Linked DNA regions of Homo sapiens. The protein of the gene in region 2 interacts with the protein of the main gene of each other region in a pairwise test. Each region holds a gene or a part of one and is shown on either strand. Other genes may lie near its edges.

Region 1 (3,500 bases), on a different chromosome or scaffold from region 2:
AAAGCAGTGCACACTAGGAGACGCAATGGCGTATCTAACCTCAGATATCCCTTCCCTTAATATGACTACCACCCAGAACCACCTAGCCTAGGTCCCCAGCAGTAGAGGATGGATGGCTTTTTTTCTGACTCCTACAAATGCAACATGCTCTGCCTCCCTCAAATCCTTAAGCAGCGACGAACTAATCCTGAAACTGCTTTTCTACAGCCCATGGTGCTTAGTATAAAGCTGTGCATACAGTAAAGAGAGGTTAAATTAAACTCCCTAGTAGACTGAACCTGTGACAGCGATGTGTTTTTTTGTTTTTTTGTTTTGTTTTGTTTTTCCCAGAGTCAACCTCCGCCTCCCAGGTTCAAGCAATTCTCATGCCTCAGCCTCCCGAGTAGCTGGGACTACAGACGTGCACCACCATGCCCAGCTAATTTTTGTATTTTTAGTAGAGATGGGGTTTTGCCTTGTTGGCCAGGCTGGTCTCGAACTCCTCACCTCGTGTGATCCACCCGCCTCAGCCTCCCAAACTGCTGGGATTACAGGCGTGAACCACTGCACCCGGCCACCTGGGTGTTTTCTTAAGATGAGCAAGTAAATTCCAAGGTGAAGGAAACCAGGCAGTACTTACCTCGTTGACTATGTAATCCAACAACTCAAAAATTGCCATGGGAGGTCGGCTGTCCATTCCGTATGCTACAAATTTTATAAAAAGAAAAAATACTTCTCAGAAACAGATTACTTGTTAATATGAGGCAAGGGGTTGGGCATGGATCCCTGGGACCAGAACAGGGTCATGGACAATAAACATTAAACAGCCACAGATAAGGCTTGAACACAGAGGGGACCAGCAAAGGCCAGGGTACAAGTCTGGGCTCTGCCACATCTTAAGTTCGTAACCTTTGGCAAATCAGTTCACTGCTGAGCCAAACAAAGTTCTGAGTTTTGTAAAGCAGAGACATAATAATTATGTCTGTCCTTTCCCCCTTCCTTCTATTGAGAGAGGCACAAATGAGATAGCAACTAAATAACTAAAGGACTTAGTTTTAATTCTCCATGAAGTTGCGTTTCTTCCTTTTGTCTCCTAGAGTCACTGGCGAGCCTCAGAGGCCACAGCCACCAGCCCCTCCAATGACCTGCCATCAGCTACCTCTAGCCCCCTCTGCTTTCCCCTTTATACAAGCTCTCTCTCATGTGGACCTCATGGAGGTACAGGGCAGGTATCCCTGGCCAGACAGGAGCTACATAAAAAACAGTTGGCTAGGTCAGGCTATTCCCTGAGTACCAGGTTTACTTCCCAGTATTCACATTCAGAGAGGCAGGTGGTACTGCACAGTGTTTATCATCTTGGGAGTCAGACTTGGCTACTTGCAAGCCTATGTGGCCTTGACAAGTGCACTGTGCCTCAGTTTCCTCATCTTTAAAATTCAGATTATAGTCGTGATCACAAATGAAATGCTATTAAAATTATATAATGCTAGGCAAATCCGTGGACACAGAAAGTAGATTAGTGGTTGTCAGTGGATCAGGCAGGGGGGAGTGGGGGATGGGGTTTCTTGCTGGGGTAATGAAAATGTTCCAGAATAAGACAGTGGTGATGGCTGCACAACATGGAACAATACACTAAAAACCACTGAACTACATGCTTTAAAATGTGAATTTTGTCTTATGTGAATTCTATATCTCAATAAAAAATAAATCTACCAAAAGTCATGATTAAAAAATTAGAATGCAGTGGCTCATGCCTATAATCCCACCACTTTGGGAGGCCAAGGCAGGAGGATCACTTGAGCCCAGGAGTTCCAGACCAGCCTAGTCAACATAGTGAGACCTCATCTATACAAAAAAATTAAAAAAATTAGTCAGGCATGGTGGCGCATGCCTGTGGTCTCAGCTACTCAGGAGGCTGAGGCAGGAGGATCACTTGAGCCCAAGAGGTCAAGGCTGCAGTAAGCCATGATGGCGCCACTGTACTCCACCCTGGGTGACAGAGCAAGACCCAGTATCAAAAACAAAACAAAACAAAAAAAACCCACAAATTAGAAGCCAGTCATGGTGGATCATGCCTGTAATCTCAGCATTTTGGGAGGCTGAGGCGGGAGGATTGCTTGAGCCCAAAAGTTCAAGACTAACCTGAGCAACATAAGGAGACTATATCTCTACAAAATAAACAACAACCTAGCTGAGCATGGTGGCATGTGACTGTGGTCCCAGCTACTCAGGACGCTGAGGTAGGAAGATCACTTGGGCCTGGGAGGTTGAGGCTGCAGTGAGCTGTGATCATGCCATTGCACTCCAGCCTGGGTGACAGAGTGAGCCCCTTCCCTCCCAACCCCCGCAAATAAATTATAACCTGTAGTCCCAGCTACTCTGGAGGCTGAGGGAGGAAGACTGCTTGAGCCCAGGAGTTGAAGACTGTGACTAGCCACTGCACTGGGCGACATAGCAAGACCCTTAATAATAAAAATAATAAATACAAAAGGTTAGATAATGTATAAAGTCCTAAGTGCAGTACCTAGAACATAGTACGTACTCAACAAATGGTAGGAAGTTGTTGGTAGTAACAACACCCACCTGGAGACCCTTGCTGCTTCCCCTGGCCCTAGCCTGGCATCCAGGGACAGAGAATCAGTCTTGGCAGAATGTACAGAGAATCAGCCCTCCAGAAACCCCTGAAAGTAAGGGACCCTCCCCTCCAACAGTCCAAGATGGGGACACACCAGGCTACTCACAGCTAAGGGGCCTCCCGGGGGTCCTTGGCCTGGGTGGGGTCTCAGCCGCATCTCCTTCCACCTGGCACCCAAACATCAGCTCCAGCTCCTTGGCATCTGGAGGAGGGATGGGATACCTCCCAACCGCCATCTCTACCAGAGACAGTCCCATGCTCCAGATGTCTGACTGCACAGAGTAATGAGTCCCCTGGAGTCTTTCTGGCTGCAGGAGAGACAGACAGTGATAATCACCTAACCTAACTTGGACCCCTGGGTCTGCTAATGCATTTTCTCTTCTGTCCCTTCTCAATAGTTCATATCCTGTTTCAAGAGCTCCACTAACCTCTTGAATTTGGCCTCCTGCCTACCCCCAACACTGTGTTTACCAAATCCTAGCTGGCTTCTGTGGCTTTAACCCCTCATCCCTGCTCTATTTCTCCTATAATCTGGCCTAAATTGACAGACCACATGTAATCAGCTGTGCCCTGGCTGCCACTACAGCCTGTGGTTCCAGCTTTACCCAGCTTGGCCACAGTCTTGCACACGCAGGGCAGCCTGTCCGAAGCCCAGCATGAGAGGCTCATCTTGTCACTGAATCTGAAACATGAAGCTTGTGGAATGCGGGTTGGGAGTGAGGTGGTGCCGTGGATACATAGAACAAAAGATCTGGGGTCAGTGGGCCTGAGACTTAAATCCCAATTCCGGGACTTACAAGCTAAAAGATCCTGAATATCAGCCTCATCTATAAAATGGGGCTGCTGCTGGGCCGGGACGCAGTGGCTCACACCTGTAATCCCAGCA
Region 2 (4,509 bases):
TAGGAACACATCGAGTTGAAGATGGGGCACTGGCTGAGCACACGCAGAGCTAATCATGCCCCGGATATGAACCACTCACTGGCCTGGTCATCCTAATTATTACTAGGCATAAGGTACATGATTCCATAAACCTTGGCAGTATAAGGACACAACAAAAAATACCAGGTTTTTCCAAGGCAGCACACTAAGCATTTCAAATATTTGTACCAAAAAAATCTAGCATGCAAGTTTCAGAAGCTTATCTGCACTTAGCTCACTGATATGGAAAAAAGTCTTATAATGGTCTGATTTATTTCAGAGCAGTTTCAGTTCCTTAGAAACTTAAAATAGCATTATAGACTTTTTTATTTTTTTTGAGACAGAGTCTCACGCTGTCACCCAGGCTGGAGTGCAGCGGTGCAATCTTGGCTCACTGCAACCTCTGCCTCCCGGGTTCAAGCGATTCTCCTGCCTCAGCCTCCCCAGCAGCTGGGATTACAGGCGCCTGCCACCATGCCCGGCTAATTTTTGTGTTTTTAGTAGAGACAGGATTTCACCACGTTGTCCAGGTGGGTCTCAAACTCCTGACCCCAGGTGATCCACCCGCCTCGGTCTTCCAAAGTGCTGGGATTACATTATAGCCTTTATACACAGCCATACAAACATTTCCTACTTCCACTAAGTCTTAGAATGATTTTTACTGACCAACAGGCATCATGGAAATGTCTGGAGCATTTGAGATTTTACGAGTTAATTTTCATGTATTAGCTGGGTATATACTTCTTAAAAACTGTAATCTTCAAGTCAACTTATCACATTGTATTACAGTTGCTGTTACCTGATCAGAATTCAGTATTTTTTTTTTTTTTTTTTGAGACAGAGTTTTACTCTTGTTGCCCAGGCTGGAGTGCAATGGCATGATCTCGGCTCACCTCAACCTCCGCCTCCTGGGTTCAAGCGATTCTCCTGCCTCAGTCTCCCGAGTAGCTGGGATTACCGGCATGTGCCACCACACCCGGGGCCTGGCTAATTTTATATTTTTAGTGGAGATGGCGTTTCTCCATGTTAGTCAGGCTGGTCTCCAACTCCCGACCTCAGGTGATCCGCCTGCCTCAGCCTCCCAAAGTGTTGGGATTACAGGCGTGAGCCACCACGCCCGGCTAGAACTCAGTATTCTTAAACCAGCGTTGCCTACCAAGTTTAGCAATTCCGGGAATGCCAACTGTCCTTACAGTCACTCTCGTATTTGCTTAGCTATGAGAATAATTTGGGGCTAACTTCACCAAAAAAGAAAAACAAGCAAGAACATCACTCTAGTAACAATAAAAGCCACTGTATTTTGCTTTCATCAAATGTGGCACCTTGTGAACCAGCTTTCTTAAAATTATTTATTTTAACCTTTAAAAATTTCTGCCAGGTAGAGCTTTCTTCTTTTCCACTGTGCAACCCACTTCAGTGCCAGCAGCCTACGGGCACAGAGGCCAGGCAATGGTTCGGGGACACAGTTTGCTCTGGCATGGGGTACTATGACAGGCCCAGGGTGACGGGCCTGTCATAAATCCAAACCCATGCATAGAATTTGCTTTAAAGCTCTATCTATTGTGACTGCTTGGCATTGTCAACCTCCGAAGTTGCCTAAATCACCCCTCGGAGAAGGGAAGAGAGTAACAACGCTAGCAAAACCATTTTTGTTACAGACATGGTTATATATTTTTGTTTATATGAAGAATATTTACAATTTAATAATAAATAGGCTCATGCAGTCTCGGACTGGGTCATTTGAGGCCTTATTAAATATTTTTAAGGCAATGTTCAGGCCTAAACTTGGAAAGTTTTGATTTCTTTTTAATACGCCAATACTTTTTTGCTTTTCTGTATCTTTTAAGGCGTTACTTAAGTAACTTACTTGAATATATTTTACTGAAGAACACCTTTCGGTCTTTCTGTAACAGCTAAGTTATTTAAAATGGTCAATCAATTAGCACAAGAGGATAATGTTAGAAGAGATAGGGGCTAATTCAAACAAACTTTGAAAAAAATTTCACAAATCAATTAAAGTCTGCCCAATTTTATGTTTAAACAAAGTCAGCCAACACATTCTTTGTCCTCCCCAGACATTCCTGAGAGGTTCTGCCTTCTACACTTTCACCAATTATTTCGACTTCGCAAACAGCACAATCAGCCTTTTCTGCAAACCTTAGGGCTGTCTCCCCTGTGTATGTCCGTTCATCTAAGCCAAGCTTTTCCGAAATCACCGAGTCATTCACAGTCCTTAAATAAACACCTCTAAGTCATGGCCGAGCATCTAATATCACAGCTACTACAGCAAGACTATCTTAGCTCTACCCACTCTCGCGGGTTTCCAAATTGGTGTCATCTGCTCTGTAGACACAGCGAAAATAAAAACTGGAAGGAAACTGAAGGCGCCAAGGCCGGGGCCCGCTCGTCTGTACCAAGGCGAGCCCGGGCTCTGCGCCCCTGCACCTGCTGCGCGGCCGCCAGGGCCTCCCCAACGGCTCCCCGGCCAGCGCGCGGCCGCCGAAGGGTTGGGAAAGAGGCCGGCGCGGGGCCGCAGGGTCTCCGGGTGGGTCTCCCCTAGGCCCCTCCAGCCCCGAGCTGTGAAGACGGGGGCAGAACGAGGCGCCCGGATCACCCTTATCCAGCCGCGGGAGAACCCCGGGCCGGGAGGAAGCGGCGCCTCAAGGTCGTGGCCCGCTCGGCGACCACGTGTCTCCGCAGGCCGGCGAGGCGCGCCGCACACGTGCCCGGGGCCCGGGGCCCGCAGCCCGCCCCGGCTCCCGCCCTCGCTCCCTCCCTTCCTCCGCGGCCGGGGAGTCCCTCACCTCAGAGCGCCCAGGCGCCGCAGGCCAGCCCCATGGGGAAGCGCAGACGCCGGAGCCTGAGTCGCAGCCGCAGGAGCGCTCGGCCGCCCCCGCCGCGCCCGTCAGCGCCTGGCTCCCGCCCGCCGGAGACGCCGGCCCGAGGTGGCGCCGGAGCTGCTGGCAGAGGGGCGGCGGGCGGCGGCGGCGGCGGCTACAGGAGGGACTGACAAAGCCCCACGGCACGCCGCTCCCTACTTATAGCACCGGCGGGTCGCCATGGAGACGCACCAGCTCAAACCAGCCACGATCGGTTCCGGCCGGGACACCGCCGGGGGAGGGGCGGGGGCCCGGCGGTGGCCAACCCGGGCCCGCGCGGAGCTGGTGGGGCGCCGGCGGGCCGACGTCAGCCGAGCCGAGCACCGCCTGCCCCACGCGTGGCCCCCGCCCCCGGCTTCGCGCCCCGCCCTCCCCGCCCTGCGGCCGCCTCTCCCCGCCCTCCCCGCCCTGCGGCCGCCTCGCCCCGCCCCGCCCTGCGGCGGTCTCGCCCGCCTGGAACTGGTCCGCGCACGCGCACGACGCCGCAGGCCCCGGCCCCGGCCCGCGGCAGCTGAACGGCAGAGCCTGTAGCTGCACAGCTGTGCTTCCACCTGGCGTTCAGTACCTCGTGCCCGAGAGCGGAAAAGGGAAATCGCGAGCGGAGGACCGATGTGCTGGCCACGTGGGCCCCGCCGGGCCGACTCCGGACCCTGCTGCCGCCCATTCCTCCGGTGCAAGGGACCTGGAAGTGATCCCGGTGCCGCTCTGCTCCCACCAGCTAGGGAGCAGAGGCGCGGGAGGGAAGGGGCGTCCCGGGGGTCGCCAGCACGCTGCGGGCAGGGCTGGCAGCCGCCTCCACGCCCCCGCGCTGGAAGCCTCGTCTTTGTAACATCGAGGTATCCTGTAACTAGATGGGTCCTGGCCTGCGGAGGTAGTTTCCCCTGTGAAGCCAGGGACTCAGCCAGGAGCGTGAGGGGACCCGGATCCTGAGTCTCCAAGCCGCCCACTACCCTCTGCTTTACCGGATGGAACTCATCAGTAACTAGGTATCTTTAAGGGCGGCTCCCTGGCGCGCTCTGAGAGTTACGGAAGTCCCAAAATGCTTTGACCGAAAACGTCTAAACAGTGAATACATAAAGCAAAAAGCCGCGTGGGAAATTCGAGTCCCTAGGAGCGCCCAGGGGACGCCTCTGGAGGTGGACTGCCACTCACTCCAGGCCACGCTGGAATGCCCGCACCAGGGAGGCACTGCACTTGAATTGGGGACACTTTTTTTTTTTTTTTTCATTTTTACCTTTCATTCCCTTTTGGACAATCCAGACAGGATATGTCTCTCCCTAGGGTGGGGATTTCGACTCCTTAGGGTGGGAGTACAGCCGATGAAGAGTTAAGGAGAGGAGTGGGTAGATCTAGATCTAGCCTTGGGTGGGTGGGGGCGGGGTTGGAGGAGCTCAGAGCACTGGCCCAGCGCTGCCCCCAACTTGCTGTGTGCTCTTGGACAAGTTATCTCCCTTCTCTGGGCTTCAGATAACCCAAGGATCCTTACATATCTTTATAGCTACAAAGCCCTGTGAGGTTTTGAAAAACTTCCTTGGTACCCAAAACCAGGTCTGAGGCACAGTCAGTGAATACCTGTTTAATGAATGCATGCATAAATGAATGAATGGATGAT

Evidence for each region.
Region 1: the proteins of ODC1 (region 2) and MAP2K1 interact in a two-hybrid assay, tested with the Homo sapiens proteins (one large-scale study listed by BioGRID and IntAct).

The regions. Positions count from the first base shown.
Region 1 is NC_000015.10:66,484,412-66,487,911, reverse strand, and holds part of MAP2K1 (dual specificity mitogen-activated protein kinase kinase 1), read right to left. Parts: intron 2,923-3,500; coding exon 2,721-2,922; intron 685-2,720; coding exon 620-684; intron 1-619. UniProt on the Homo sapiens protein: Dual specificity protein kinase which acts as an essential component of the MAP kinase signal transduction pathway.
Region 2 is NC_000002.12:10,445,299-10,449,807, forward strand, and holds the start of ODC1 (ornithine decarboxylase), read right to left. Parts: upstream 3,030-4,509; 5' UTR 2,823-3,029; intron 2,715-2,822; exon of another isoform or gene 2,176-2,714; intron 1,552-2,175; exon of another isoform or gene 1,416-1,551; intron 1-1,415. UniProt on the Homo sapiens protein: Catalyzes the first and rate-limiting step of polyamine biosynthesis that converts ornithine into putrescine, which is the precursor for the polyamines, spermidine and spermine.